Regions from separate parts of the Homo sapiens genome. Here regions 2, 3 and 4 are each linked to region 1. Evidence: fine-mapped expression QTL. A gene starts in region 1. Each other region holds a variant in brackets. All regions are shown on one strand. Distances are between the middles of the regions.

Evidence for each region.
Region 2: its variant is fine-mapped to the expression of RBM6 in whole blood (TOPMed, PIP above 0.99).
Region 3: its variant is fine-mapped to the expression of RBM6 in whole blood (TOPMed, PIP above 0.99).
Region 4: its variant is fine-mapped to the expression of RBM6 in whole blood (TOPMed, PIP above 0.99).

The regions. Positions count from the first base shown.
Region 1 is chr3:49,935,325-49,943,425 of GRCh38, reverse strand. It overlaps RBM6 (RNA binding motif protein 6), which reads right to left and starts at 3,276. Exons shown (of 21, transcript NM_005777.3): 1 at 3,201-3,276. RefSeq lists a silencer at 2,846-3,045 and enhancers at 2,602-3,123, 3,186-3,245, 3,276-3,325, 3,356-3,415, 3,124-3,646.
Region 2 is chr3:49,109,721-49,117,821 of GRCh38, reverse strand. USP19 (ubiquitin specific peptidase 19) reads left to right here. Exons shown (of 27, transcript NM_001199161.2): 4 at 1-165; 5 at 252-385; 6 at 461-763; 7 at 879-1,095; 8 at 1,215-1,371; 9 at 1,471-1,542; 10 at 1,660-1,775; 11 at 1,878-2,098; 12 at 2,183-2,378; 13 at 2,461-2,594; 14 at 2,705-2,863; 15 at 2,949-3,059; 16 at 3,538-3,648; 17 at 3,729-3,830; 9 more. Among named protein-coding and RNA genes, the nearest start is that of USP19, 7.1 kb to the left of the region's middle. The variant G/A (reference allele first, on the strand shown) is at 3,827.
Region 3 is chr3:50,184,944-50,193,044 of GRCh38, reverse strand. It overlaps SEMA3F (semaphorin 3F), which reads right to left. Exons shown (of 19, transcript NM_004186.5): 14 at 7,514-7,602; 15 at 7,338-7,379; 16 at 6,999-7,156; 17 at 6,697-6,764; 18 at 6,299-6,432; 19 at 3,970-5,340. The coding sequence ends at 4,930. GNAT1 (G protein subunit alpha transducin 1) reads right to left here and starts at 1,435. Exons shown (of 9, transcript NM_144499.3): 1 at 1,214-1,435. The coding sequence starts at 1,319. The variant G/A (reference allele first, on the strand shown) is at 4,910.
Region 4 is chr3:49,966,797-49,974,897 of GRCh38, reverse strand. RBM6 (RNA binding motif protein 6) reads right to left here. Exons shown (of 21, transcript NM_005777.3): 3 at 6,150-7,428; 4 at 2,750-2,839. Among named protein-coding and RNA genes, the nearest start is that of RBM6, 31 kb to the right of the region's middle. The variant C/T (reference allele first, on the strand shown) is at 4,894.

The sequences.
Region 1 (8,101 bases):
AGGAAGCTGAGGCGGGATGACTGCTTGAGCTCGAGTTCGAGGCTGCAGTGAGCCATGACTGTGCCACTGAACTCCAGCCTGGGCAACAGAGCAAGACCCTGTCTCAAAAAAAAATAAATAAAATAATTAATAATAATAATAATTACCATATAGCAATTTCCCTTCTGGGTATATACCCAAAAGAATTCAAAGCAGGGACTCAAAGAGATATTTGTACACCAATGATCACAGCATCATTATTTACAATAGTCAAAAGGCAGAAGCAACCCAAGTGTCTGCTACAAATGAATTAATAAACAAAATGTAGTGTACACACACAACGGATTAAGCCTTAAAAAGGAATGAAATTCTGATACACAGTACAACATGGATCAACCTTGAAACCATTACACTAAGTGAAATAAACCAGACACAAAAAAGGACAATACTGTATGATTCCATTTAGTATTTGCAGTACCTAGAACAAGCACACTCACAGACAGACACAAAGTAGATTAGAGATTAAGAGGAGGAAATGGGAAGTTAACTTGTTTAATGGTTACAGTTTCTTTTTTTCTTTTTTTTTGAGATGGAGTCTGGCTGTGCAGCCCAGGCTGAAGTGCAATGGCATGACCTCAGCTCACTGCAACCTCTGCCTCCTTAGTAGCTGGTGTTACAGATGCATGCCACCATGCATGGCTAATTTTTGTATTTTTAGTAGATACGGGGTTTCACCATGTTGGCCAGGCTGTTCTTGAACTCCTGAACTCAAGTGATCTGCCCACGTTGACCTCCCAAAGTGCTGGGATTACAGGCGTGAGCCACCATGCCCTCCCTGGTTACAGAGTTTCTGTTTGAGATACTAAAGTTTCAGAAATAGTGGTATTGCTTGTACTACATTGTGAATGTAATTAATACCATTGAATTGTATACTTTTTTTTTTTTTTTTTGAGATGGAGTCTCGGAGTCTCGCTCTGTTGCCCAGGCTGGAGTGCAGTGGCGCAATCTCGGCTCACTGCAAGCTCCGCCTCTCGGGTTCACACCATTCTCCTGCCTCAGCCTCCTGAGTACCTGGGACTACAGGCGCCCACCACCACGCACGGCTCATTTTTTGTATTTTTAGTAGAGATGGGGTTTCACCGTGTTAGCCAGGATGGTCTCGATCTCCTGACCTCGTGATCCGCCCACCTCGGCGTCCCAAAGTGCTGGGATTACAGGCGTGAGCCACCGTGCCTGGCTGAATTGTATACTTAACAATGGTTTAAAGAGCAAATTTTGTTAAAATATACATAAACATACATAAAAATATATATTTACCACAATTTATTTAATTGATTTTTTTTTTTTTGAGACAGTCTTGTTCTGTGGCCCAGGTTGGAGTGCAGTGGCACTATCTCCCCTTACTACAACCTCTACCTCCCCGGCTCAAGCGATTTTTCCATCTCAGCCTCCTGAGTAGTTAGGGCTAACAGGAGCATGCCACCACGCCTGGCTAATTTTTTTTTTTTGTATTTTTTGTAGAGACAGGGTTTTGCGATGTTGCCCAGGCTCACAATTTGTTTTAGAAATACTATAACAGGGCCGGGCACGGTGGCTCACGCCTGTAATCCCAGCACTTTGGGAGGCCAAGGCAGGTGGATCACCTGAGGTCAGTAGTTCAAGACCAGCCTGGCCAACATAGCGAAACTCCGCCTCTACTAAAAAAATACAAAAAATTAGCTGGGCATAAGGCGAAACGCTGCCTCTACTATGTTGGTTTTTGTTGAGTTTTGCGGGTTTTTTTTTTTTTTTTTTTTTTTTTTTTTTGAGACAGAGTTTCACTCTTGTGGCCCAGGCTGGAGTGCAATGGAGCAATCTCAGCTCACCGCAACCTCCGCCTCCCAGGTTCAAGCGATTCTCCTGCCTCAGCCTCCCAAGTAGCTGGGATTACAGGCATGTGCCACCATGCCCGGCTAATTTTGTACTTTTAGTAGAGACGCGGTTTCTCCATGTTAGTCAGGCTGGTCTCGAACTCCCCACCTCAGCCTCCCAAAGTGCTGGGATTACAGGTGTGAGCCACCAGGCTCGGCCTGGTAATAGAATTCTATAAGGAAAGGTGCTACAACTATCCAGAGAGACCTGGGACCTGTCCTGCAGGTTAGGTATCTAGTTAGATGCTAGTTTCTGAGACAAGGTTCAAATTCAACTTTTGTGTTTCACCAAAATGGTAACATATTATTTAGTTACTTTCTTCACTGCCAGTCCTACCATCACGCACCAGCTCTTGACACCTCTCGTTAGAGACCTCACAAATTCAGTAATGGTGACATATTTAAATCATTCACGCTGGTGGCATTTCTCAATAGGAAGGTGGAAACTAGCAAGCCGAGGGCACAATCCAGGGTTCAGAAAATGAACCAGGTGACCATGTCTGCATGTCTACTGAACTCCTTCACTTAAATCCGGCTACTCTGACCTTCACAAGCAAACCTGGAATATGCAAAAAATACAATTACGCTCACGGTTTATGTACCCTACGAAACAGGGCCCTTCCTTCAAAAAAAAAAAAAAAAAAAAGGCATTCCCAAAGTTGAACCCATTCGCCTAACGTCAATTCTAAAATAAAGAGAAAAACATCTATTTACACCGCTAATGGAATCTAAAGCGTGAATACGATAAAACATCCTTCTCCTTCATTGCCTAACGGGCGCAGAACCCACCAGACCACTCTCCCGCTTCCAGGTTCTACCGCCCCGACGACCGGGCTCGGAGCTCTTGTGCCCTCCGGTCCAGCGGAGCCTCCCTTGTGTCTGTCCAAGTCTGAGGACGAGGCTACGTGCTAAGCACAAGAGCTCCCTTCCTAGTGATGCCACAGAATTGGATCTGAAACAGGAAAACCGCAAGAACAGCCCGCTTACAGCTCCGAAGAGTAGGAGCACAGAGCCGCAACCACGCGCCGGCCCCAGCCTCACAGCTGGCCGCTCCGCGGCGGGACCGGTAATCTACTGCCGCGCCGGGCCCCGCCCCAGGCCCGCGACGGTTCCGGGGCGTTCCTGCCACGGGCGGCGCCTCCCTCATCTCACCGTTGCTTGGTCTTCTTCCCGAGCGAGGCCGCAGCCGCCCCGCGACACTGAAGCCACAGCTTTCAGGCTGCGCGGGCCTGCGATGTCTAGAGCGGGCCTGTCTGCTGGCTATTCCCTGGCAGGCTCTGGCACGCCTCCCCTCCAGTCCCGGGCCCTTACCTAGGCGGCGAAGCCTCCACGGCCCGCTCCTCCTTCTCCTCAGCCTCCGCCACCGACCCAGCGCCGCGGACACCGGAACTTCCTCCGCGCGGGGCCACTGCTACCACAAAGGCGCCGCGCCGCTGCCTTCAGCGCTCGGCCCGCTGGGAGATGAAGTACAGCTGCCGGTCCCGCAGACTCTTACTCCCGCCGTGCCCCGCGCGCAGGGGACTTGCCTTCTGGGGTGGGTCGTAAGAGCACGCTGTCCATCGCCATCCAATAAGAAGGCGCGCTTACCCGCCCTACTCCGCGTGACCTGCTGGGAGTTGTGGTTTGGCCTCTGCCCTGTGACACCTGGTCCTCTTGTGCTTTCCTCTCAGTTGATTGAGGCTTACAGTTTTTTGGTGGCTTGACTTTCCTGAGGTTTGCTCCCTGCCAGCAGCTCGGGTACGGCCCTGGCCTGCCTAGCTCGAGGCCTCCTTATTGTCCGTTAGTGTGAGAGAAATGGAAGGGAGCTTCTTCGGGAGTAAGTTTAAGCCATCTCCAGCTGGTTGGCGGGGCGCGGTGGCTCACGCCTGTAATCCCAGCACTTTGGTAGGCCGCGGCGAGTGGACCACCTGAGGTCAGGAGTTCTAGACCAGCCTGGCCAACATGGTGAAACCCCATCTCTACCAAAAATACAAAAATTACCCGGGCTTGGTGGCAGGTGCCTGTAATCCCAGCTACTCGGGAGGCTGAGGCAGGAGAATCACTTAAACCCGGGAGGCAGAGGCAGAGGTTGCAGTGAGCCGACACTGTGCCACTGCACTCCAGCCTGGACAATAGAGCAAGACTCCACCTCAGAAAAAAAGAAAGAAAGAAAAAGGCCGGGCGCAGTGGCTCATGCTTGTAATCCTAGCACTTTGGGAGGCCGAGGTGGGTGGATCACGAGGTCAGGAGTTCAAGACCAGCCTGGCCAAGATAGTGAAACCCCATCGCTACTAAAAATACAAAAAGTAGCCAGGCGTGGTGGCGCATGCCTGTAATCCCAGCTACTCAGGAGGCTGAGGCAGAGAATTGCTTGAACCCGGGAAGCACAGGTTGCAGTGAGCCGAGATCGCGCCACTGCACTGTTGCCTGGCAACAGCGCAAGACTCCGTCTCAAAAGAAAGAAAGAAAGAAAGAAGTTGGGCGCAGTGGCTCACGACTGTAATCCCAGCACTGTGGGAGGCCGAGGCGGGTGGATCACGAGGTCAGGAGATCAAGACCATCCTGGCTAACACGATGAAACCCTGTCTCTACTAAAAACACAAAAAATTAGTGGAGCGTGGTGGCGGGCACCTGTAGTCCCAGCTACTCAGGAGGCTGAGGCAGGAGAATGACGTGAACCCGGGAGGCGGAGCTTGCAGTGAGTCGAGATAGCGCCACTGCACTCCAGCCTAGGCGACAGAGGGAGACTGTCGCAAAAAAAAAAAAAAATTACCCGGGCTTGGTGGCAGGCGCCTGTAATCCCAGCTACTCGGGAGGCTGAGGCAGGAGAATCACTTAAACCCGGGAGGCAGAGATTGCAGTGAGCCTAGACTGTGTCACTGCACTCCAGCCTGGACAATAGAGCAAGACTCCGTCTCAGAAAAAAGGAAAGAAAGAAAGAGGCCGGGCGCAGTGCCTCACGCTTGTAATCCTAGCACTTTGGGAGGCCGAGGCGGGTGGATCACGAGGTCAGGAGTTCAAGACCAGTCTGGCCAAGATGGTGAAACCCCGTCTCTACTAAAAATACAAAAATTACCCGGGCGTGGTGGCGCATGCCTGTAATCTCAGCTACTCAGGAGGCTGAGGCAGAGAATTGCTTGAACCCGGGAGGCGGATGTTGCCGTGAGCCGAGATCGCGCCACTGCACTCCAGCCTCACAACAGAGCAAGACTCCGTCTCAAAAAAGAAAAAGAAAGAGGTTGGGCGCAGTGGCTCACGCTTGTAATCCCAGCACTTTGGGAGGCCGCGGCGGGCGGATCACGAAGTCAGGAGATCGAGACCATCCTGGCTAACACGGTGAAACCCTGTCTCTACTAAAAATACAAAAAATTAGCCGAGCGTGGCGGCAGCCGCCTGTAGTCCCAGCTACTGGGGAGGCTGAGGCAGGAGAGTGGCATGAACCCGGGAGGCGGAGCTTGCAGTGAGCCGAGATTTGCGCCACTGCACACCAGCCTGGGCGACAGAGCAAGACTCCGTCTGAAAAAAAAGAAAGAAAGAAAAGGGGCTGATGGCCGTGCACCCACAGAAGGCCCTGGCTCCTGGCCCTCCCAGCCCTTCTACCTGAAACCTGACAATAGGTACAACAGAAAAACTTGGATTAGAGAATCAATATGTCATGGAGGCTCATCCCCTTTTCCTTTATCTCCATGCATTTGCTCATAATCTATTCTTTTTCTTTCTTTCTTTCTTTTTTTTAGAGACAAGGTCTCACTATGTTGCCCAGGCTGGTCTCGAACTCCTGAACTAAAGCAATTTCCTTCCCCTCCACTCAGCCCCTTTTCCTTCTGATGAGTTTCCAAATTATGTATTCCCTGCTCAAGAATAGCAGACAGGCTCATGCCTGTAATCCCAGCATTTTGGGAGGCCAAAGTGGGCGGGTCACCTGAGGTCAGGAGTTCAAGACCAGCCTGACCACCATGGTGAAACCTCGTCTCTACTAAAAATACAAAAATTAGCCAGGCACGGTGGCAGGCGCCTGTAATCCCCAGCTGGTCGGGTGGCTGAGGCAGGAGAATCGCTTGAACCCGGGAGGTGGAGGTTGCAGTGAGGTGAGATCACACCAGTGCACTCCAGCCTGGGGGACAGAGCAAGACTCCATCTCAAAAACAAACAAAACAAAAAAAAAAACTTCATCTGTGTTAAAGGTTCAACCCATAAAGGAAAAGCCACCCAGCTTCCACAGGTCTTGCTAGCTCTTGGGCAATAAATCTGGCCAAGACTGACTTGTGCAAGGTCACAGAGGAGCTGGAAGGAAACTGCAAGTCAGCAATCTAGCAGAAAACGGGGCAACACAACTCGATTTGCAGCTCGTTTCCAGCATCTTCAACCTAATGTTCTTCCAACTGCCAGCTTGAAGTTCTTAGGTGTACTGTCTACATTGTTGAAAGACTTGCTAGTCTTGGCCATCTGGTGTTCCTGTCAGTGGGCCCTTAGGGAAGGTAACCTGATTTTATAGCCTAAATTCAACATTATGGGATCAAAAAAGTCTTCTGCAAGAAAAGCCCATTAAACATTCAAAAATAAAGTACACTTAGGCCAGGAATGGAGGCTTACGCCTGTAATCCCAGCACTTTGGGAGGCTGAGGTGGGTGGATCATGAGTTAACAAGTACAAGACCAGCCTGGCCAACATGGTGAAACCCCGTCTCTACTAAAAATTCAAAAATTAGCTAGGCATGGTGGCACACACCTGTAATCCCAGCTACTCGGGAAGCTGAGGCAGGAGAATCACTTGAACCCGGGAGGCAGAGGTTGCAATGAGCCAAGATCGCACCATTGCACTCCAGCTCTGGGCAATTGAGCGAGACTGTCTCAAAGGCTGGGCGTGGTGGCTCACGCCTGTAATCCCAGACTTTGGGAGGCCGAGGCAGGCAGATCACGACGTCAAGAGATCGAGACCATTCTGGCCAACATGGTGAAACCCCGTCTCTACTAAAAATACAAAAATTAGCTGGGCTTGGTGGCGTGTGCCTGTGGTCCCAGCTACTTGGGAGGCTGAGGCAGGAGAATTGCTTGAACCCTGGAGACAGAGGTTGCAGTGAGCTGAGATTGTGCCACTGCACTCCAGCCTGGTGACAGAGACTCCAACTCAAAAAAAGAAAAAAAAAAAGATACACAATCTCTCTGGTGGTGGTAATGCTATGGAGAAAAATAAGGGAGGGAAGGAGAGTGAGGAGTTCTGGTGGGAAGTTGTAACTTTAGAGCAGTGAGGGAAGGCCTCACTGAGCTCTTGGAATAAAGACCCAAAGAAGATGAGAACCAAGCTATTGGGATACCTGGGGAAAGAATGTTCTGAACAGAAAGAATAGCAAGGCCAAAGGCCCTGAGGTATGAGCATGACTAGAATTTTTAAGGATCATTAAGGAGTCTGGAACAGAATTGTTTTGGAGAAGTGTGATGAGACAAGTCAGTCTTGGTCAGAAAGGTGTGGAGGTTGCAGTACAGTGGCACGATCATAGCTCACTACAGCCTCGAACTCCTGGGTTCAAACAATGTGGTTGGATTATTGCAGCAGCCTCCCAACTAGCTGTTCTGCTTCTCCCCTTTCCCACCTTCAGTCTGTTTTCCACACAGCAATCAGAGGAATCCTGTTAACATGGAATTCAGGTTATGATATCTCTCTGTTCAGAGCCCTCTAACAACTTTCCATCTCCCTCCTTACAGAAACCAAATTCAGCAGCCTACAAGACTTGGAAGAAGCCACAATCATGCCACTGTATTTCAGCCTGAGCAACAGAGCAAGACCCCATCTCAAGGAAAAAAAAATTCCAACCACAGAAGGATGGTGCTTGCAGCAGTGTGGCCACAGTAGAAACAGGAGACAGACCTGTTGGACTGGAATGAAGGAAGATAGGGAAGAATTTGGGAGAAACAGTTTTGGTAGGAAGAGCAGGAGCTCAGTTTTGGGTAGGTAGAGTTTTCTAATAACCAGTAGACAAGTGAGATGTGGAGCTGGAAGTCGGTTCCATCAGTCTGGAGTTCAGGATAAAGATCAGGACTAGAGATGCAAATCTGGGAGGTATCAGCATGTTGCTAATATCTAAAGCCACAGGCCTGGATGAGATAACCAAGGGAGTAAAGGAGTAAGCAGAGATGGGAAAGCAAAGTTTAAGCCTTGAACACCTAGGCCACACCAGTGCTAACAGGTTTCAGGGAAGAGGAGGAACAGAACTATGGGTATTTTGGCCAGGTGCG
Region 2 (8,101 bases), 830 kb after region 1:
AAGACCCTCATGATCTCTTGGCTACTCCCACTCCAGAGTTGTTGCTCGATTGGAGGCAGAGTGCAGAAGAGGTGATTGTCAAGCTTCGTGTGGGAGTAGGTCCCCTGCAGCTGGAGGATGTAGATGCTGCTTTCACAGATACAGACTGTGTGGTGCGGTTTGCAGGTGTGTCCATCTGCCCTGAGCACAGTAGTATGTTTGAATCTTCTGATATCTCCTATCCTACCTCATGGACCCTGCTCTGTCCCCAGGTGGTCAGCAGTGGGGTGGTGTCTTCTATGCTGAGATAAAAAGCTCTTGTGCTAAAGTGCAAACCCGCAAGGGCAGTCTCCTGCACCTGACACTGCCCAAAAAGGTGCCTATGCTCACGTGGCCCTCCCTCCTGGTGAGTTCTAGTAGTACAGGGTTGGGTAGGGATACCAGTGTAGTCGACAGGGCCTGACTGCTGTATCTTTGGCAGAAGAAACCTCTAGGGACCCAGGAGCTGGTGCCGGGGCTGCGGTGCCAGGAGAATGGGCAGGAACTGTCTCCCATTGCCCTGGAGCCAGGCCCTGAGCCCCACCGGGCTAAGCAGGAGGCCCGGAACCAGAAGCGGGCCCAGGGCCGTGGTGAGGTAGGCGCAGGGGCTGGCCCCGGGGCCCAGGCAGGGCCCAGCGCCAAGAGGGCTGTGCATCTCTGCAGAGGGCCAGAGGGGGACGGGTCCAGGGATGACCCTGGACCCCGGGGTGATGCCCCACCCTTCGTGGCTGACCCAGCCACCCAGGTGAGAGCTGGGCACCTGTTTGGGTGTTAGGAGATGGGGGGAAAGGGTGTGCACTGGAGTGGGAGCCACCTGGCAGACCCAGGGCTGATTCTTTCCACAATCTTGCCATTAATAGGTTGAGGCTGATGAACAGCTTTGCATACCACCGCTGAACTCCCAAACCTGCCTCCTGGGCTCAGAGGAGAATTTAGCCCCTTTGGCAGGAGAGAAAGCAGTGCCTCCCGGGAATGACCCAGTCTCTCCAGCCATGGTCCGGAGCAGAAACCCTGGGAAAGATGACTGTGCCAAGGAGGAGATGGCAGTGGCAGCAGATGCTGCAACCTTGGTGGATGGTAAAGGTGGGGGTGGGCAGGCAGAGCCCTAGGTTGGGTTGCAAAGTTTGTAGGTGGATAGAGAGTAGCAATAGGCTGGAACCTGTCCTGGTTGGGGCTGAGCCATGGTCTCAATATAGAGCCCGAGTCGATGGTGAACCTGGCGTTTGTCAAGAATGACTCGTATGAGAAGGGCCCGGATTCAGTGGTGGTGCACGTGTACGTGAAGGAGATCTGCAGGGACACCTCAAGAGTACTTTTCCGTGAGCAGGACTTCACGCTCATCTTCCAGACCAGGTGGGTGGGTAGATGATGGGGCAAACAATGCCTCAGGTGGGACAGTATGTCTCATGCTCTTCCTCTTGTCCTTCCTCCTATCCTGCTGTGCCTCTGCAGGGATGGAAACTTCCTGAGGCTGCACCCGGGCTGTGGGCCCCACACCACCTTCCGTTGGCAGGTGAAGCTCAGGTGGGTGGTGCCCGGCCCCACCACTGTGCCTGTCCTACCCCGTGGGCTCCATCTCCCTGGCTCATCTATCCTGATGCTCATTCCTCCTAAGTCCCTGAGTTCAGCCTTTTCCCACAGGAATCTGATTGAGCCAGAGCAGTGCACCTTCTGTTTCACGGCTTCTCGCATCGACATCTGCCTTCGTAAGAGGCAGAGTCAGCGCTGGGGGGGCCTGGAGGCCCCGGCTGCACGAGGTCTGCACACGAGCTCCCTTCATTGCCCAGTTCCACGTGACCAGGACCCAAACCCCTGTCACATGCTGCTAACCACCAGCCCTCTCATTCCCCCTTTTTAAGGTGCAGTGGGTGGTGCAAAGGTTGCCGTGCCGACAGGTCCAACCCCTCTGGATTCAACCCCACCAGGAGGTGCTCCCCACCCCCTGACAGGCCAGGAGGAGGCCCGGGCTGTGGAGAAGGATAAATCCAAGGCACGATCTGAGGACACAGGGCTAGACAGTGTGGCAACCCGCACACCCATGGAGCATGTAACCCCAAAGCCAGAGACACACCTGGCCTCGGTGAGAATTCTGGGGTGGGAAGGACGAAGAATGGAGGCTGGAGAGTCTTGGGGCTGTTCTCTCATGTCGTCTTTGCTCCTGCAGCCCAAGCCTACATGCATGGTGCCTCCCATGCCCCACAGCCCAGTTAGTGGAGACAGCGTGGAGGAGGAGGAAGAGGAAGAGAAGAAGGTGTGTCTGCCAGGCTTCACTGGCCTTGTCAATTTAGGCAACACCTGCTTCATGAACAGCGTCATTCAGTCTCTGTCCAACACTCGGGAACTCCGGGACTTCTTCCATGGTGAGGGCAGGGCCTGGAGCCTGGGTTATGGGCAGAGAGAGTGCCTTTGTTCCTCACACCTTTGCTCGGCTACTATTCCTAGACCGCTCCTTTGAGGCTGAGATCAACTACAACAACCCACTAGGGACTGGTGGGCGTCTGGCCATTGGCTTTGCCGTGCTGCTTCGGGCGCTGTGGAAGGGCACCCACCATGCCTTCCAGCCTTCCAAGTTGAAGGTGATCTGTGACCACTGTCACCCTTGGCTGGAGGGGGCGGGGAGGGCCAGCCAGCTGGGTGTGCAGTGGGTGCTAGGGCTTCATGTTCACACCTTGGCTCCTGTATCCAGGCCATTGTGGCGAGTAAGGCCAGCCAGTTCACAGGCTATGCACAGCATGATGCCCAGGAGTTCATGGCTTTCCTGCTGGATGGGCTGCACGAGGACCTGAATCGCATTCAGAACAAGCCCTACACAGAGACCGTGGATTCAGATGGGCGGCCCGATGAGGTCAGGGTTAGGGACAGAGGGTGGGCATGTCTCATGAGCATCCCAGCCCCTGGTACTCTTTGGTTCTCACCACTCTGCCTCTCAGGTGGTAGCTGAGGAAGCATGGCAGCGGCACAAGATGAGGAATGACTCTTTCATCGTGGACCTATTTCAGGGGCAGTACAAGTCGAAGCTGGTGTGCCCTGTGTGTGCCAAGGTGTGATGGGCTCCCCTGGAAAGAGACCCCCTAGTTCAGCTCAGCTATTCTGGTCACATTAGGTTCAGAGGCATGTGCATCTTAAGGTGCTACAGGGCAAGGTTTGGGCAAAGAAGCTGGCAGGGAGGCCTTAGGATTCTATTTGGGCTGAAGAGCCCACTCAGGGTAGGCTTCCTGACTGAGGGAAAAGTGATGTTAGAGCTCAAAGGTGTTGTAGCAGGGTTGTGGGCACATGGGGTGCAAGTGTGAGGCCAATTCGTAAAGTGGCTAAGCTGAGTAGGGCTTTGAGTGCCAGAAAGAAGGATTGTTATTTCCTGGTGGTCCTCCTGCCCTGTCTAGTGTCCTGAAGCCTGAGAGTTTGCTGGTTGGCTGTGGGGGCCCTGAGAGCCATCAGAAGCCCCGGAATGGGCTCTCTGAGCATGAGCATCTTATCTCCCACTCTGTGTGCAGCTACCCAGTGCCACCTCTACATCCACAGGTCTCCATCACTTTTGACCCGTTTCTTTATCTGCCGGTGCCCTTGCCACAAAAGCAAAAGGTTCTCCCTGTCTTTTATTTTGCCCGAGAGCCCCACAGCAAGCCCATCAAGGTGAGGAGTAAGCCCCTACCCTCTGGGCTGTTCTAGAGAACGTGGCCCACCTCCCTCACTGACTGCCCTTTTTGCCACAGTTCCTGGTGAGCGTCAGCAAGGAGAACTCCACTGCGAGCGAAGTATTGGACTCCCTCTCTCAGAGTGTTCATGTGAAGCCTGAGAACCTGCGTTTGGC[G/A]GAGGTATCTTTGTCCTTCCTTGGGCTATCACATGTGTGGATGTGTGTGTGTACTCACCACAGACGTGTGTACAGTCATTGGCATCTACAGACATACACATGGGCTGGGCACAGTGGCTCATGCCTGTAGTCCCAGCACTTTGTGAGGCCGAGGTGGGCAGATCACTTGAGCCCAGGAGTTTGGGACCAGCCTGGGCAACTTGGTGAAACACTGTCTCTACAAGAAATAAAATTAGCTGGGCATGGTGGTACGTGTTATAGTCCCAGCTACTTGGGAGGCTGAGGCAAGAGGCTCACTTGAGCCCGGGATGTGGAGGTTGCAGTGAGCAGAGATTGCACCACAGCACTCCAGCCTGGGTGACAGAGTGAGACTCTGTCTCAAAAATAAATAAATAAATAGATAAAAAAATAAAAATAGGGCCAGGCGTGGTGGCTCATGCCTGTAATCCCAGCTCTTTGGGAGGCCAAGGCTGATGGATCACAAGGTCAGGAGATCCAGACCACCCTGGCTTACATGGTGAAACCCCACCTCTACTAAAAATACAGGAAAAGTTAGCCGGGCGTGGTGGCACATGTCTGTAGTCCCAGCTGCTCAGGAGGCTGAGGCAGGAGAATCGCTTGAACCTGGGAGGCAGAGGTTGCAGTGAGCCGAGATCGCGCCACTGCACTCCAGCCTGGGTGACAGAGTGAGACTCTGTCTCAAAAATAAAATAAAATAAAATAAAAATAGACATACACATGAGTATGCCTGTGACTGTACAAAAACAGGCGATGTGCTGTTATTTTTTCTGTGCAACAGAAGTGCCCTCAGTTCCTAGCCATTATCAGGGTTTATTCCCCTTTGTGGTGGTGGATCCCAACTGCATTTCCCTTTTTAGACAAGGAGCTTGAGCTGCAGGACTATCCCTATGTTCGCTCTGCCTCTCCCTCTATCCTGCTGCTCTCTCCTTTTATCCCAGTTGTGTGTGCTAGCTCTCCCCAGGGGTTCCTAGCCTTTAGCCTGACAGTGTTGGTTTTCTTAGGGGTAAGAGTGGGGAGGAGGCTCTTTGAATGTGGACCCTCCATGATAATATGTTACAGTCTTATAAGGCTATGCTAGTTATAGCAGGGCAGAGTCCCTCAGTGTGGAGAGCTGGTGTGGTTGATATCTGCCTCACACCTGGTCTTTCAGGCCCTCTGATGCACCAGGCTCCTTATGGCATTGGGCACTGAGACAGGTGCCAGCAGAGGCATAAGCCTATTTGGGCCTACAGACCTCACCACTGCCCACATAGACCCAAGGCAGGGCCAAGCCTTCTTAAACTCTGGGGCAGGGCTAGGGAAAGGGCTTATCCTCACGTGGGATCTGTGTGTTCTCTGTCCCCAGGTAATTAAGAATCGTTTTCATCGTGTGTTCCTACCCTCCCACTCACTGGACACTGTGTCCCCATCTGATACGCTCCTCTGCTTTGAGCTGCTATCCTCAGAGTTGGCTAAGGAGCGGGTAGTGGTGCTAGAGGTGCAACAGGTGAGTGGGGGCCAACCTGATGGCACAGCGCCCTGGTGGGTGGGGCACTTCTTCCTGGTCTTGCTGAGCCAGACGACCCACCCTAGCGCCCCCAGGTGCCCAGCGTCCCCATCTCCAAGTGTGCAGCCTGCCAGCGGAAGCAACAGTCGGAGGATGAAAAGCTGAAGCGCTGTACCCGGTGCTACCGTGTGGGCTACTGCAACCAGTGAGGACCCCCATGGTCTCCCCTACCCTTTCTTTCCACCTTCCATGTGCCACCCTGCTCCTTCCCTTCACACCAAGGCACATATGCTTAAGCTTTCTACTTGCCACCCTACTTTACCAGGCTCTGGGGGAGGCAGGGCTGGCGTACCCAGTTCCCAGGGACTATGACTAGCCCCCAGTATGGAGTCATAGGAGATGGGGCTAAGGGCCTATCCTTGTCTTCCTCTTCCCGTCAGGCTCTGCCAGAAAACCCACTGGCCTGACCACAAGGGCCTCTGCCGACCTGAGAACATTGGCTACCCCTTCCTGGTCAGTGTACCTGCCTCACGCCTCACTTATGCCCGCCTCGCTCAGTTGCTAGAGGGCTATGCCCGGTAAGTGCCCAGTGGTTGGACTAGAGTGGTGTAGGTGGGGGCAGAGGTGCTAGATGGGCTGGTCAGGAGTCTTACTTGCGTTGTTCTCTGTTGCCAGGTACTCTGTGAGTGTATTCCAGCCACCCTTTCAGCCAGGCCGCATGGCCTTGGAGTCTCAGAGCCCTGGCTGCACCACACTGCTCTCCACAGGTTCCCTGGAGGCTGGGGACAGCGAGAGAGACCCCATTCAGCCACCTGAGCTCCAGCTGGTGACCCCTATGGCTGAGGGGGACACAGGGCTTCCCCGGGTGTGGGCAGCCCCTGACCGGGGTCCTGTGCCCAGCACCAGTGGAATTTCTTCTGAGATGCTGGCCAGTGGGCCCATTGAGGTTGGCTCCTTGCCAGCTGGCGAGAGGGTGTCCCGACCCGAAGGTAAGATCCAGTGAAAGGCTCTAGAAGCTGGGGAGGAGGATAAGGGAGGATGGAGGGGGCTGTTGTTTAGGGCCTGGTGGGCCTGGTGAGGCCCTGATGGGCAGGGAAGCTTTGATTATCATGTTCTCACACAGCTGCTGTGCCTGGGTACCAGCATCCAAGTGAAGCTATGAATGCCCACACACCCCAGTTCTTCATCTATAAAATTGATTCATCCAACCGAGAGCAGCGGCTAGAGGACAAAGGTGTCTGAGGCTGTGGGTGGGAGCCATGGGGTGGGTTGAGCTGGCTGTTCTCCACAGCTGCATGACCTCTCTCCCTGCGAATCTCCAGGAGACACCCCACTGGAGCTGGGTGACGACTGTAGCCTGGCTCTCGTCTGGCGGAACAATGAGCGCTTGCAGGAGTTTGTGTTGGTAGCCTCCAAGGAGCTGGAATGTGCTGAGGATCCAGGCTCTGCCGGTGAGGCTGCCCGGGCCGGCCACTTCACCCTGGACCAGTGCCTCAACCTCTTCACACGGCCTGAGGTGCTGGCACCCGAGGAGGCCTGGTGAGAACAGAGCAGCAAGTAGATAAGGGGGCAGGATGGAGAAGAGAGAGACTTGCTGGTCCTGACCCAATCTCTGTCCCCACCAGGTACTGCCCACAGTGCAAACAGCACCGTGAGGCCTCCAAGCAGCTGTTGCTATGGCGCCTGCCAAATGTTCTCATCGTGCAGCTCAAGCGCTTCTCCTTTCGTAGTTTTATCTGGCGTGACAAGATCAATGACTTGGTGGAGTTCCCTGTTAGGTAAGCAGTGGACCTTGGTAACTGTGGGTGGGGTGTGAGGACCAGGATGGGCATCCTGAGCGCCTGTTGCCTGTCTCACCCCTCCCTGACTGGACCTGACCTGCAGGAACCTGGACCTGAGCAAGTTCTGCATTGGTCAGAAAGAGGAGCAGCTGCCCAGCTACGATCTATATGCTGTCATCAACCACTATGGAGGCATGATTGGTGGCCACTACACTGCCTGTGCACGCCTGCCCAATGATCGTAGCAGTCAGCGCAGTGACGTGGGTGAGGGCACACACAGCCAGCAGGATAGGTGGTAGGGGTGGTGGTGCAGACTTTGTTCACACTCTTCCCACCCTGCTGTAGGCTGGCGCTTGTTTGATGACAGCACAGTGACAACGGTAGACGAGAGCCAGGTTGTGACGCGTTATGCCTATGTACTCTTCTACCGCCGGCGGAACTCTCCTGTGGAGAGGCCCCCCAGGGCAGGTCACTCTGAGCACCACCCAGACCTAGGCCCTGCAGCTGAGGCTGCTGCCAGCCAGGTGAGGCATGTGGGAGGCTTTACAGAATACTGGGGGACAGTTCACAGACTGGGGCCGGGTTGGGGGATATAGCTTCCTCTCCTCCAGCCACAGGCCCATTGAGCCTTGGGATTCATGAGAATTGCAGAGTTCTCTTAACATCAAAGCTTTAGCCAGAGGCATCCCCATGCCTTGGGGACACTAACAAACATACAAGTACACTAACATGCTGCCACTGGCAAGCACATTGGCACCTACTTGGCACAGGTCAGGCAACTGCTCTGAACCTCACTGGGCACTATGCTGTGAATGAACTATACCTGACACTCTCCTAGATTTCCTCTGCACATTCCCCACATGCTGGCCCACACACCCTCACTTGTGATGTCCCTGAGTTCTAGTGTGCACTCAAGACAAGGCCTATTTGGGCTGGCCATGGCCTCTGGTGGCTGTTATACTCTTTGAGGTAAGCATCTGTCTTTGC
Region 3 (8,101 bases), 250 kb before region 1:
CAGGGTGGACCCGCAGCGAAGAGGCCTGAGCGCCAGCCCCGACCCCGTAGCCACACCTACCCCCCCATCCAAATTAAGTCCTGACATCCTGAAGTCACAAGGTTTGCAAATGCCAGGAAAGTGAAGAAAGGAAGCCAACGAGGGGACTCAACGACCTCAACTGTTCTGGGACAGGGGAGTCCCCAAGACCCCGGCACAGGCAGCCTTTATTATGCTGTGAGACTGCAATGAAGAAATCCCGGAGCGTCATCGCCACCTCGTGGGAGCCTCTGGTACCGCAAGCACTGGGTTATTTGAGGCGGGTAAACCCCTTGCATTTCACCTGAAGGGGTGCAGGTGTCTCCAGGAGGCTCAGAGGGAATTAGCTCTTTTGGGTAGGAGGGAGGGCAGAGTTGACATCCTTTCTGAGCTTGCCCCTGCGAGGGCGTTGGGCACAGTTAATGAGATTTCCGGCTTAGCCTCTCTGCCTTGGGGGAAAGTGGGACTGGCTTGGTCCCTCACCCACCTCCAGCTGGTTGACCAGACCCTGGGGAGCTTGGGTGGAGCCCCTCTTGAAGCTGCTTTTTCCCCTTGAGAGGTCAGGCAGTGACCTTGAGGCAGGCCTGGATCAGCCCCATCTCTCCTCAGTGCCCATGGTCCAGTGGACGCGGCTTTATCTACTCCCACTGGGCCTCAGTACCCGCCAGCCCCTCTGGCTGCTTTGTAGGTCTATCAGCCACAGCCCTCTGGCACCTGAGGGCCATTCGTTGTGGATCTGGGTGGTCCTAGAGGCTCCCCACTCCCAGGAGGACTATGGCCATCCCCTTCCCAAAGTAGCAGCCCAATAACGGGCTCCCAGTGAGGCTCCTGGCTTCTGAGCATTGCCTAGCAGGCGTATCAAACCAAAGGCTGCATGAAGCTTGCGGGAACCCAGCCACGGAAAAGTCGGCATCACACACCCGTGCAAGAGTGTGGTTGGCACGCACTTCTGGGGAGGGTGGGTCACCTGAGGCAGAGCCGTCTGGAGAGGGGCTTTGTGGGATGTCCAGCCCTGGGGGACTAGGACACCACCTGTCAGGCCTGGCCTTGCTTGGCCAGGGCTCCCACCCTGTGCCCTACTCTGTCACAGGCTCATACTGCTTCCCAGGGAATCCTTGCTTCACAGAAGGGCTGCCTGCCTGCCTCCAGACCAATGACCTGGTGGCAGTGGCCCCACCTGGGCCCACACCCCTACCCAGAAGCAGCAGCTTCACGGTTCGAGCATCCTTCTCAGCGTCCTCTTTCAGCTTCTTTTCCAGCTCCCTGGAGTGCTTCTCCTCAGCACTGGCCCCAGCCCCCATGGTCCCAGCAGCAGGCGAAGGGACAGAGTGAGCAGGTGGTTCTTCTGGATGGAGGGGATCCCCAGAACCTGGCCTCCCAGGCACCCTTCTGGCCCCAGGAGGACCTGCAATCAACTGGCTCTCTACGGACCTGTGCAATCCCTGGTGGGGCTGCTTAGTGGGATTTGGGGGCTAGGGGTGTCCAAGAGCCAATCAGAGACAAGGACAGGTGAATCCAGCTCAGCCCCCCCAACCCTTCTAATCGGGCTGGCATAGCCCCAATCCCTCAACCGCTGACTCTGCACTCCGGCTGTCCTTCTGTCCCCGCAACCCTCCAGGAGAGGCCCTGGCACTGCCTGGGAGTGGGGAGACATGTTCAGTAGGGTCAGGGCTGAGAAAGGGGAAGGCAGAACCTTGAGCCCTGGGGGTGAGGACAATGGAGGTGGGGCTGGCAGTGAGAGGGCATAATTGGGAGAAACATGCCTGCTGCCTGCCCGGCACCAGGCTCAGCACCACTCCTTATCTTGTTGTAAGCTCACACTGGCCCTGGAGTATGGATGCCCATATCATCAGCCTCATTTTACTGATGAGGAAGTAAAGGCTGAAAGGGTCACACAGTAGGAAGTGGTTAAGAAGGGCTGGTGACTCTGGACTGGGATTTTATGACCTGCAGGGAATCCAGAGAGAGGGAAACAGTGGGCATTGCATTCATCCCATATCACAGGCTGGAGCTGCCCCAAGGAGGTCCTCTGCTTCCAGCGGACTGTGGTGGGCATGCATATCTGCTCTGTGTGCCTCGGTGTATGTGTCTTTTTTTTTTTTTTTTCTGAGATGGAGTCTCGCTCTGTTGCTCAGGCTGGAGTGCAGTGGCGCAATCTCAGCTCACTGCAAGCTCCACCTCCCAGGTTCACGCCATTCTCCTGCCTCAGCCTCCTGAGTAGCTGGGACAACAGGTGCCCGCCACTACGTCGGGCTACTTTTTTTGTATTTTAGTAAAGACAGGGTTTCACCGTGTTAGCCAGGATGGTCTCAGTCTCCTGACCTCGTGATCTGCCCGCCTCGGCCTCCCAAAGTGCTGGGATTACAGGCATGAGCCACCGTGCCTGGCCTTTTTTTTTTTTTTTTTTTTTTTTTTTTGAGACAGAGTTTCACTCTGTTGCCAGGCTTGAGTGCTGTGACACGATCTTGGCTCACTGCAACCTTCAACTCCCTGGTTTAAGCTTCTCCCACCTCAGCCTCCCAAGTAGCTGGGATTACGGGCATGTGCCACCATACCCAGCTAATTTTTTGTGTATTTTTAGTAGAGACGGGGTTTCACCATGTTGGTCAGGATGGTCTCGATCTCCTGACCTTGTGATCCACCCACCTCGGCCTCCCAAAGTGCTGGGATTCAGGTGTGAGCCACCTCGCCCGGCCATGGGTGTGTCTTTTGCTGGCACCAAGCGAGCAATAACTTGACACATTTGTGCATGAATACCTGTGTGTACATGTGTGCCTGCATGTTTATGCCTTTGTGAGTGCATGTGCTCTTATAGGAATCACGTGCCTGTGCGCATGCTTATGTATGTGTGCACATGTATACACATGTGTATGCATGTGTGAATATGCTTTGTGTATTCTCTTCATGCACACATAGGCTTGTGTGTTTTGCAGTTTGTGTAGGTTTGCATGTGTGCACTTGCTTATACGCAGGGGTGTAAACATGCCTGTTTGTACCTGAGCATATGTGTGCCTGTGCATGTCCATCTCTGCCTGTGTATGACTGTGTGTGTGCATGCATGCTTGCAGGCGCCTGTGCCTATATGTACACTTGAATTTGGGTGCAACAAAGTCTCTAATCTGCAGAAGTGGCCAGGCTCTTCCAGAGAATGTTTTGCAGGCCTGTTGCCAGGTGGAGAAATTGCATCCCAGAGCAGGTGTAGTGTTCCCTGGGGTATGGAGGAATGGGGCTCACCTATCCTGCTCCTGCTCTGTCTGCTGTGGGTGCTCTGAGGCCTGCCTAAGATTATCTCCAGGGCCTGCCTGCCTCAGCTTAGGGGGTCTGGTGCTCTGTTCAGGTGCAGGGCTCACTGCCGGGCAGAAATTGTTCAGGTTGAGCTCCCAGGTTCTAGAGACTTCCCACCCTCAACTTCCATAGGAAAACCCAAATCTTGGGCTCTCAAAGGCTCCTCCAGGCACCCTGAGCCTCCTGGCTGGACTCTTCCCTGGAACCTGGCTGCCTTTCAGCACTCAACTCTGCCACAGACTCAAGAGACCACAAGGGGGTGCCGGGGCACCAGACACTGAGCACTAACGGCTGTCTCTAAATAGTATGCGTGGGAAGTGAATGCTGGCTCCTACCACAGGCTGGCAGCTTCTACACCCACCCTGTTGGATGATGGGGATCTGTCCAGGAGTGAGGCCGTTGCATTTCTGCCACTTTCAGCCTTCAGGCTCCACCCACCCTCCCTGACCCTGAGGAGTGAGTGGGCCCTGAGGGGTCTCTACAGCCCTTCGCACTACCCAAGTGTTTGGGGTGGTGCAGCAGCCCAGGTTTGTCAAACTAAATGTGGTTTCTACATGTTGGGTTTCTTTAAATGGAGCCAATCTACTCCCTTCCCAGCCCCCCACCTGGCTCCCCAGGCCCACCACGTGTGGCTCTAAATCCCCTGACCAAGGAGAGAAGCCAAAGTCTAGTCCCAGAGCCAGTGTTTATTAGCAAGATGGAACCCAAAGGCGGCTGTGGCCTGGGCAGCAGAAGGCCACCAGGAGCCCCCACCCATCTACCCAACTGCCCCCCAGAGCTAATTACATCCACACCCATCCCCTGAAGTGGTGGACATAAGGGAGCCCTGGGGAGCCTCTACCGGCCCCAGGCCTCTACCACGGACCCCCTCCCCTCAGAGCTGGGGCCTCCCGTCAGCTCTGCCTGGGCCTGGCCCCTCTGCTATGCTCCCAGCCTCTGAGTCAAAGTGGCACAGGGAAAGCTAAGGAGGTAGAGTGGGGTGGCCCTGCCCTGGCCAGGCGGGGAGGGGAGAAGGGGCTGAAGAGGCTGTCCCACCCAGGCAGGATGCCTCTTCTCCTATCCCCAATAAATAGAGAATAAATACCCAGGAAGGGGCTGGTCGTGGCTGAGTGCCCCCAACCCAGGCAGGGGCTGGCATCCTGTGATGGCCCCTTCTTCCCTTCTCTGTGTGCTCTTGAGGCCACCCCAGTCTCCAAAGTGGTCCTCGCATCCATGTCTATGCCACAGCACAGGCTGACAACACACATCAGAAAAGGTGGACAGTCCGTGCCCCATCCGAGTAGGGCTTGCTCCCTCCCTTTGTCCTGTAGATCTTGGCGGAGGCTGTCCAGCAGGTAGACTTCCAGCTGAGTCTGGGGACTGTGTGGTCCTGGCCTGGCCCCACCAACTGGCTGGGCCTGGTTAGGCAGGCTCTGTTTTCTGCCGTCTCTGACCAGCATGGGTCTAAGTTTTGGAGGATGCTGCCACTGAGGCAGGCTATATTCAACCCACCAATAAATACTGTCTTTGCAGGGGCAGGGTGTGTATAGAATATAGATATTTTATATATATATATATATATATATATCTTTTATATTAAAAGGGACAAGGGCTAGGCTGGCCCATG[G/A]CAGGCACAGGCAGCTGGCCTCATGTGTCCGGAGGGTGGTGCCGGCGGTTCCGGGGCTTTTTCTGGTCCTGGGGCTCAGGAGACCGGGGTGCCCCTGGAGCCTCCCTGGGGCTGGGGGGCACATGGCGCCAGTAACCCTGGCAGTACTGGTGGATGAGGCCCACTTCTGGCTGGGCCAGCAGCTGGGCTAACTCCTGGTAAGGAGGCGTTGGGGGGCCTGCGCCTGGGGGTGGCGGGGCGCTCATGGACAGTGGTGGGAAGAGGGCAGCATGGACGGCGTCCCGGCCCAGTACATGCAGCTGCACTCGTGTGACGACGTGCTTAAAGTTGTTCTCAGTGGCTGTGCAGGAGTAGAGGCCACGATCGCTGAGCTGCAGTGCACGGAGCAACAAGCCCTGCTCTGTGCGCAGGAAGCGGTCCTCTGCACGAATCTGCAGGGGCAAGGAGAGGGGGTTCAGAGGCTCTGTGACCACCCTATGGCCCTAGCCAGCAACCAGATCAGACCACCTTTGTGGCCATTCCGTGTAGAGGCACCCATGTGGGATTTCCATATGCCAGAAAAACCACATGAAGTTTCTACATAATGAGAGATATTTGAATAAGGCATCTGTACAGATTTCCATTTCAGGAGTGATGACCATAAGGAGGTTCTGTACAATGAGGAAAATTTGAAGCACACACAGAATTCCTTTTTTTTTTTTTTTTTTTTTTTTGAGACAAGGTCTGGCTCTGTCGCCTAGGCTAGAATGCAGTTGAATGATCTCGGTTTACTGCAACCTCTGCCTCCCAGGCTCAAGCCATCCTCCCACCTTAGCCTCCCAAGTAGCTGGGACCACATGCATGACTATGCCCAGCTAATTTTTGTATTTTTGGTAGAGAGAGGGTTTCACCATGTTGCCCAGGCTGGTCTCGAACCCCTGACCTCAAGCAATTTGCCTGTCTTGGCTTCCCAAAGTGTTGGGGTTACAGGTGTGAGCCACCACGTCCAGCCAGAATTTCCATTTAACGAGAATATCCAATTGGGATAACCACATAGAATTTCCACATAAACAGGGACACCTGTAGGGCATTTTCATAAAATGAGGGCCCCATAGAATTTCCACATACTGGAGCTCACTCACATGATGTTTTTGTAGAAGGTACACCCCCAATGTGGTATGCATATGGAATTTTCATGTGAACAGGCATACCCAGAAACACTTTCCATAGAATGAGGCCAATCCCAGGGAGTTTCCATGTAACTGTTTTCACTCAAAGGATTTGCATGTAGGGAAGGGAGCTTGGAAGGGGTTTCACAGCATGAGAGTTGCTCCAGATCACTCCTCTACTACATTTCACCACTGTGCAAGGACTCACATCCACGGTGCAGCACCGGGCGCAGGAACTCACCTCTCGGCGCCGGTCACCAGGATCTCGCTGGAACAGCCACTTAACAGTGGCTTGGGGCGAGCGGGGCTGGCACTCAAGGAAGGCTGCGCTGCCGGCCACGCCATACTGCACAGACTCCACGGCATTCTTGTTGGCTTTAGAGTGAGAGGGGTTGAGCAAAAGCAGCATCACCTCCGGGCAGCCTGCTGACTGCTTCGGGGCAGGCACCGAGGGGCACCCACTCACCAATGTAGTGCTCTGTGTTGATGGGGCAACTAGGGACATCCCATCTCCATTAGCCCCCACCCTCCATTAGCCATCAGAGCACCCTTACAGTGGGGGCCCTGTGAGCAGCTTCGTGGGCTGCGTGGACTTCTGCAGTGTGAGCAGCACCCCACAGTGAGGCCCAGCATACTCACCATTGGAGTTGAACCCACGGCACTGCCTGATGGGGTTTCCGTGCCGGACGTCCTGCCGGCGGCTCCGCCTGGATGAGGATAGCCCCTGAAGGAGTGCTCCCAGGAAGCTTGCCCCCCCAGGTCCCTGTATCTCCCTGACTCCAGGGCAGGGCCCTTTTTCCCCAGGGCAGTGATGTCTTACCCATAAGACTCCCCTAGGGTAATATCACATGCACCCCGGGTAATATCACATGCACCCCCAATCCCCTAGGATAGGGCCCTGGGACTGGTTGCTAAAATTCTAGGTGTCTAGGGGTCCACACCTCTTGGAGGATGCTGTATAGCGGGAGCAGGCCTGGCCATCCCAGGCACAGTAAGGGTCCCGGGCAAGGCAGCAGTCAGCACAGGCAGCCCCATACGCCTGGCAGCGGTGCAGGCTCAGGTGTGTGACACCCACGGCTGACGCCACGTAGAGTTGTTGCTGGGGCAAAGGGTAGGGCCTTGTCAGTTCCTGTCCCATAGCCAGCCCCACCAACAGCCAGCTAGGCTGGGCTCCTCTCCCCTGTTCCATGCCTCAGTTTACCCATCCCTGTGCCAAGGGCATGACCCTGAGGGGATGCAGGCCCTGTCCCCAACCTTGGCTCACCTCGCCAAAGGCTTACCCTCTTAGAAGAGATGGTCATGGTCTTGACGGGTGCTGGATCCTAGAAAAAGATAAAGATCAGCTTGGGATGCCAGGGACCCCCTCCCTGCCCTGACCTAGAGGTCTCAGGTCAGAGGCTGGGACTGGGGGGAGGGTAAAGGTGGGGAGGTCAGGACTGGGTGGTGTCACACCCACCTTGAAGACCTCCACCTCCTCCAGCATGAGCTCCTCCAACTCCTGGTCATCCTTGGGCAGCACAATGACCTTCTGCACTGTCCCGCGGTCTGGAACGGGCCGGGCAGGGCCTCAGTGGGGCTGGGGATGCTGGGGAAGGGGTACCAGCCTCAGCCCCTTCCCCCACCAGGGCCCAAACCCCCCTAGGGCATTGGAGCTGGAGCTTTGTGCCAAGGTGGAAGAGTTTCCCCAGGTCAAAGGGGACTGGCCCAGGACATAGGGGGTCATGGCCATGGTCTGCCCCCACCAACCCAGACCCTGATTTTGGGCCCTGCTGAGAACAGGACACTGGGGCATGCATTCTCCTGTGTTTGGGCTGCTGGAACTGTAGGGGGTGCACTGTGGCATGTGTGTGCACACACGAGCATGTGTATGGCCTCTGTATCCTGGAGGTGCCTACCATCTGTCTCCACCCCTTTCCTGCCATACATACATAAGTCCCCAGATGCCCAGTGTCCCTGTTCTCCTGGGCCCCTGGGGATGGAAGTGGGAATGGGGTTTTCTCACCCCTAGCCTCTGTTATCCCATCAATAGGGAGAAGGCACCAAA
Region 4 (8,101 bases), 31 kb before region 1:
CTGGCTAACATGGTGAAACCCCATTTCTACTAAAAATACAAAAATTAGCCTGGTGTGGTGGCACACACCTGTAATCCCAGCTACTTGGAAGGCTGAGGCAGGAGAATCACTTGAACCTGGAAGGCTGAGGCTGCAGTGAGCTGAGATCATGACACTGCACTCCAGCCTGGGCAACAGAGCGAGACACTATCTTTAAAAAAAAAAAAAAAAAAAAAAAAAAAAAATTGGCCGGGCACGGTGGCTCACGCCTGTAATCCCAGCACTTTGGGAGGCCGAGGTGGGCAGATCACAAGGTCAGGAGATTGAGACCATCCTGGCTAACACGGTAAAACCCCGTTTCTACTAAAAAATACAAGAAATTAGCCAGGCGTGGTGGCGGGCACCTGTAGTCCCAGCTACTTGGGAGGCTGAGGCAGAAGAATGGCGTGAACCCGGGAGAAGGAGCTTGCAGTGAGCCAAGATCGCACCACTGCATTCCAGCCTGGGCAACAGAGCGAGACTCCATCTCAAAAAAAAAAAAAAAATTAGCCAGGAGTACTGGCTCACACCTATAATCCCAGCTACTCGGGAGGATAGTTTGAGCCCAGGAGTTTGAGGCTGTAGTGAGCCTTGATTGGGCCATTGCACTCCAGTCTGGAGTACCCTGTCTCAAAAATAAATAAATAAATATTTAAAAATTCTCAGGTACATAGGAAAAGCAGGGCCAGAAGCGGTGGCTCACATCTGTAATCCTAGCACTTTGGGAGGCCGAGACAGGCGGATCATGACGTCAGGGGATCGAGACCATCCTAGCTAACACGGTGAAACCCCGTCTCTACTAAAAATACAAAAACTTAGCCGGGCGTGGTGGCACATGCCTGTAGTCCCAGCTACTCAGGAGGCTGAGGCAGGAGAACCATTTGAACCCGAGAGGCGGAGGTTGCAGTGACCCAAGATTGTGCCACTGCACTCCAGCCTGGGTGACAGAGCAAGACTCTGTCTCAAAAACAAACAAACAAACAAACAAACAAAATGCTGGGCGCGGTGGCTCATGCGTGTAATCTCAGCACTTTGAGAGGCCGAGGCGGGTGGATCACTTGAGGTCAGGAGTTCAAGATCAGCCTGACCAAGATGGTGAAACCCCATCTCTACTAAAAATACAAAAATCAGCTGGGTGCAGTGGCAGGTGCTTGTAATCCCAGCTACTTGGGAGGCTGAGGCAGGAGAATCTCTTGAACCCTGGCGGCAGAGGTTGCAGTGAGCCGAGATCGCGCCACTGCACTCCAGCCTGGGTGACAGAGTGAGACTCTGTCTCAAAAAAAAAAAAAAAAAAAGAAAAGCAGAAGAGCATAACCTTCAAAGGCTTAAGCTCTGAAATCATACTGTGTGCATTCCAAGCTCTCTGCTCACTTGCTGTGTAACCTTTTAGTGTCCAGTTTCTCATGTGTTAAATATAAAATGATGTACTGGGTTCATTACAGTCCAGGGCCACAGCACTTCCTCAGCATGAACTGCCTGGGCAGTTCATTTCCCCATATTCATATAAACTGTTCTCTCACGGCATTCAAGCCTGGGCTCGAATGCCTCTTCCTCAGTGATGTCTCCCTAACTACACAATACAAAAAACAGCCCCATTAGCATGCATGCCCGTGGTCCCAGCTACTCAGGAGGCTGAGGTGGTAGGATCGATTGAGCCCAAGAGGTAGAAGCTGCAGTGAGCCGTGATTGTGCCACTGCACTCCAGCCTGGGCAACAAAGTGAGACGCTGCCTCAAAAAAATCAAAAATGGGCTGGGCTTGGTGGCTCATGCCTGTAATGGCAGTACTTTGGGAGGCAGAAGCAGGGAGATAACCTGAGGTCAGGAGTTCAAGACCAGCCTGACCAATGTGGTGAAACTCCGTCTCTACTAAAAGTACAAAAATTAGCTGGGCGTGGTGGTGTGTGCCTGTAGTCCCAGCTACTCGGGAGGCTGCGGCAGGAGAACTGCTTGAACTGGGGAGGTGGAGGTTGCAGTGCACCAAGGTCGCGCCACACACTCCAGCCTGGGCGACAAAGCAAGACTCTGTCTCCGAGTTACAGGCCGAGCTACCATGCCCCGCCTGTACTTTAGTTTTCTTCAGAGTATTTATTTGCTGACTAAAATTGTGTAATCCTTTTGCTTGCTTTTTCATTATCCATGGAGGCAGTGACTTGATAATATACACTGCTGTGTCACTCAGTATCTAGAACAATTACATACAGTAATGCTTAATATTTAGAGTGATTATATTAAATATGTGATAATTAAATGAACTAATGCTTGTAAGTATCACACAATGCCTGGCACAGAGCGAGCACTGCCATAAGTTCAGACTTAATTTAGTCAGCCAATCCTTTGATACAGGGCAGTTAGGCAGTTTCTAGTTTTTACTATTGTAAATAAACTGCATCCTTATGTACATACTCCAGAAATAATATGCTCTAAAGGATGTGATCAGGTCTAAAGAGAGCAATCATTTGTCATAATTTTTTTTAACCTCACCTCAGTGAGTGCATGTATAAATGGTGAAATCTGAATAAACTTTATGTATTATACCAGGGTCAATTTCCTGGTTTAGATACTATACCACAGTTGTGCAAAATATTAACACTGAGGGAAGATGGGAAAAAAATACACAAGACTTCTCTGTGCATTTCTTTGCACCTTCTTGTGAATCTACAATTTTTCAAATTAAAAGGTTTTTTTAATTTTTAATTGACACAGAGAAACAGGAGAGAAGACATGCCTTACCTCTTCTTTTGTGGCATCTTCAGGTACCCCACTTAATCGAATAAGCCTGCTGGGTTTCTCCTCACTTGGGCCGGTCCTATAATCTTGATCCTTAAATTGAGAATGAAAAATTATTTCACAAATATACTTTACTGCACAAAACACAAATCAACATGAAATTTAGCCACTCAGGATCAAAAATGATAATGACATGTCACGTGAAGATATAAAAAATTACAATTTTCTCTATTGTTCTGAGTGCCAGAATGTGACTTCAAATCATAAGAATGTAAATGTGCTAAGACCAAGTCTCACTGAAAGAGTCTTCAAAGTAAAGCAAAACATTACGAGAGACAAGACTGAGTAAGACTTTAATAACCAGAAAGACACACTAACATAGTCTCAAAACAGTAATTTTCTCAGCCTAGCCAACATGGTAAAACCGTCTCTACTAAAAATACAAAAATTAGCCAACTGTGCTGTGCACGCCTGTGGTCCCAGCTACTCAGGAGGCTGAGGCGGAAGAATCACTTGAACCTGGGAGGCAGAGGTTTCAGTGAGCCAAGATTGTGCCACTGCACTCCAGCCTGGGTGACAGAGCGAGACCCCCGTCTCAAAAAAAAAGAAAAATTTCCCTGGTCTGAGAGCTGGAGAATGGGCTGTAAACTAGCAGTACTTCATACCTCTGGTGAGAGAAGATGACTAGATAATGTCTTTTTTTTTTTGAGACAGAGTGTCGCTCTGTCGCCCAGGCTGGAGTGCAGTGGCACAATCTCAGCCCACTGCAGCCTCCGCCCCCCAGGTTCAAGCAATTCTCCTGCCTCAGCCTCCCAAGTAGTTGGGATTACAGGCGCCCACCTCCACACCTGGCTGGTTTTGGTTTTCGTTTTTTTTTTTTTTTTCAGATGGAGTTTCGCTCTTGCTGCCCAGGCTGGAGTGTAATAGTGCAACCTCTGCCTCCCCGCAACCTCTGCCTCCCAGGTTCAAGGGATTCTCCTGCCTCAGCCTCCCGAGTAGCTGGGATTACACACATGCATCACTACGCCCAGCTAATTTTGTATTTTTAGTAGAAATGGGGTTTCTCCGTGTTGGTCAGGCTGGTCTCAAACCCACGACCTCAAATGATCCACCTGCCTCAGCTTCCCAAAGTGTTGGGATTACAGGCAAGAACCACCACGCCTGGCCTAATTTTTGTTATTTTTAGTAGAGATGGGGTTTCACCATGTTGACCAGGCTGGTCTTGAAATCCTGACCTCAAATGATCTGCCCACCTTTGCCTCCCAAAGTGTTGGGATTACAGGCATGAGCCACTGTGCCTGGCCTTATTTTTCTTCCCCACCCTCACATTCTCTCCTGAGGTTGCACCACACTGGTCTCAAGTTCCTGGCCTCAAGTGATCCTCCCACCTCAGCCTCCTAAAGCACTGAAATTACAAGCATAGGCCACTGTACCCAGCCAAATCTACTTTAAAAGAGAATACCTTCATTGTAAAATTACAAATATAACCCTCCTTGCTTAAATCATATATTCAAGAAGTTTAACATTTAAGTTAATTACGTTAGCTGCAAGAGGATAGTTGCAACATTAATATCAGCTCTTCACAACTAGGGAGACTCCTAAGTATTCTCTCAATGAATTTAAATAAGAAAATGATCCCTAAACAATCACAGGTCTAACTAAGCGAGAGTTGCAAGAGTCAACTCCCAAAGACATATACTTTCAAACTAAATTATCCCAAGGCATGTAAATCAGCATCATAAAACAAAATAATGAATAAACACACATCAAAAGGGTAGGGGCAGTGGCTCATTGCTGTAATCCCAGCACTTTGGGAAGCTAAGGTGGGGGGACTGCTTGAACCCAGGAATTTGAAACCAGCCTGGGAAATATGTTGCAACCTTCTGTCTACAAAAAAATACAAAAATTGCTGGCCAGGCATGGTGGTGCATGCCTGAAATCCCAGCTCTTTGGGAAGCTGAGAAGGGTGGATCATTTGAGATCAGGGGTTCCAGCCCAGCCTAGGTAACATGCCTAAACTTCATCTCTACAAAAAATACAAAAATTAGTCAGATTTGGTGGTGCACAACTACAGTCCCAACTACTCAGGAGGCTGAGGCAGGAAGACTGCTTGAACACGGGAGGCGGAGGTTGCTGTGAGCCAAGAT[C/T]GTGCCACTGCACTCCAGCCTAGGCAACACGGTGAGGCTCCATCTCAAAAAAGAAAAAAAAAAACACAACTAACTAGGAATGGTGAAATATACCTGTAGTCCCAGCTTCCTGGAAGGCTGAGGCGGGGGAACCCCTTGAACCCAGGAGGTAGAGGTTGCAGTGAGCTGAGATCGCACAACTGCACTTCAGCCTGAGCGACAGAGCAAGACTCATTCTCAAAGGAAAAAAAAAAAAACTAGCCAGGCATAGTGGCTGGCGCACATCTGTAGTTCCAGCTACTCAGAAGGCTGAGGTGGGAGGATCGCTTGAGCCTGGGAGGTCAAGGCTGCAAGGAGCCATAATTACACCACCGCACTTCAGCCCGAGTGACAGAGCAAGACCGTGTCTCAAATATATATATATATAGTTCCTTCATATATACACACACATATATACACAAATGGAAAGTGAAGCAGGAAGAAAAGAATAAAAGAAAAAAGAAATATATATATATAAATATATATTCATATATATACATATATATTCATATATATATATACACACACACACACATATATATGATCTGAGCTGAGGACCTTTTCTCTAGAGATTTACATTCCTACATTCCACTCCTGAATACAAATTTTGCTTTCTAATGGTTATGCAAAGATAAAAATAAAATGAAAAAAAAAAAAAAAAACTGGCCAGGCACGGTGGCTCATGCCTGTAATTCCAGCACTTTGGGAGGCCGAGGTGGGCGGATCACGAGGTCAGGAGTTCGAGACCAGCCTGGCCAACATGGTGAAACCCCATCTGCACTAAAAATACAAAAATTAACTGGGCATGGTGGCACATGCCTGCAATCCCTGCTACTCAGGAGGTTGAGGCAGGAAAATTGCTTGACCCTGGGAGGCGGAGGTTGCAGTGAGCTGAGATTATGTCACTGCACTCTAGCCTGGGTGACAGAGCAAGACTCCGTTTCAAAAATAAATAAATAAATAAATAAATAAATGTCATCCTTCACAAAAGTCTTATTTAAAGAAAAAAAAAAAAAGCAGGCCGGGCGCGGTGGCTCACACCAGGCGTGGTGGTGGGCGCCTGTAGTCAGTCCCAGCTACTCAGGAGGCTGAGGCAGGAGAATGGCATGAACCCAGGAGGCGGAGCTTGCATGAGCAGAGATCGCACCACTGCACTCCAGGCTGGGCAACAGAGCGAGACTCCGTCTCAAAAAAAAAAAAAAAAAAAAAAAAAAAAGCAATCCACCCCATCAACATACCTGAAGGTCCCGTTGGGCATCTCGGGCAGTTTTGCCCTCTGGAAAAGACTTGCTCTGGCCATAGCCAAACATCTGGCTTCCTGGCAGCCTATGATCCACATCACGGTACTCCATGCTTCTGTAATCGGTGTCTTGCCGCCCAAGAAAGTCCAGACCGCCTTCTTCTTTAAACAGACCAGCATCTGAACTCTGCTCTTCACGTCCAGAAAGCTGTGACTTATCTTGGTCTTGAACTGGACTTTGGCTGTTCTGAAAGTCTGCTGGAGACTCATGTTCAAAGGCTACACCTTGTGTTTCTCCTTCTCTTGTTTCTGAATGCTCAAATTCTCCCTTCTGAATGCCAAAAGCAGGCCTTTCTATCGTATGGTCATGTGTGGATTCTTCTCTCCTGTTCACATTCATACCAGAATGTTCTCTATCTTGTGTAGAGGGCTGAATGTAATCCAAAATATTTGGATCCACAGGGGGCATCTCCCTATCTTTAAATTCCATACAAGATCCCATCTCTCTGCCCCTAAAATCCTGATCAGTCCTAGATCGGTGTCTACCTCTGAAATCTGAATGTGGCGTATCCCTGTCCCTAAAGTCTAGATCAGTAGTACCTGAACCTCGGCCTCTAAAGTCTACTTGTGTTCCGTCTTTGTCTCTAAAGTCCAAATCAGATACATCTCTATTCCTAAAATCAGAACGGGACTGTTCTCTGGCCCTAAAATCCAAATCTGATAAATCCCTTCCCCTAAAATCTGCATGGGATCCATCCCGGCCTCTAAAATCTAAATCATAAGTGCCCCGGCCCCTGAAGTCAGATGGAGGAGCATCCCTACCTCTGAAGTCAACAGCGTGAGCATCCCTGTCTCTGTAGTTCATATGAGGTGCCTCCCTACCTCTATAATCCATAGAAGTACCATCTCCACCCCTATAGTCCATAGGTGGTCCTTCTCTATCCCGAAAATCCCCAGAATGTATGTCCCTACCCCTGAAGTCCAACTGTGATGAATCTCTGCTCTGGAAATCAGAAGACGAAAAATCTCCCCCCCTGAAATCATGTCCAGGTCCCTCCCCTCCTCGATAGTCACCATGCGGTCCGTCTCTAGCTCCATAGCTGAAAGAATGCTCCTCTACATTTGCAAAAGGAGGCCCCGAATGCCCCTGGAAATCAAAGGGAAGTGAATCTCTGCCAGGAAAGTTGCCAGAGTGTCTCTCTTGAGCATGACTCTTAAGGGGAGGAGGAGGATAATCCCTGTTCCACCCGGGAGCAAACCTTTCTTCTTGGCTCCCACTGTAGAAACAAAGACAGTGTTATTCATATTGTCCAGAGAGTTTGAAATCTACACACCAGCATATTCTTCTCTAATCACAGCACATTCTTCTGTAAACATTTTTTTTTTGGCAGAGTTCTGTAACAAGGTCCTAGATCTGCAGAAAACAGCAAAGTTTTGCTATTTTAAGACGAAGTGGCGGAGTAAACTTTTATGCTCCCATTTCAGAACACGAGGAAAGTCAACACAAGGTTTTCAACATGACTGCTGCAGAAAAAGCTTTCACCCAGTCCTGCAACAGGGAAAATCCGCAATACCAAATAAGCTAACAATGGTGACATACTACAAAAATTTCCATTTCCTACAGCCAGGGAACTTAAGAATTCCAAGGTCAACATGACGATTCCTATATATCAGAAAAATCAATGCACTGTAAATTTCTTACAGTAAGTTTCAGGAGGTATCTTTCTCACGCTGCATCCAGCGGTAACATTCAAAAATATTTTATTACAGATACAGCATGGACACCACCCAATCAAAATGGATGCAGGCCCAAAAAGAAGAAACACTGGTTGTAAATCACCAGTAGGAACAAGCACACCAGTGTTCACCAGCTGAGCATCAGCCCTGGCTGCATCTAAATCCCAGTTCTACAGTGGCTCCACCAAGAAGCACTCTAACCTGGGTCCTATT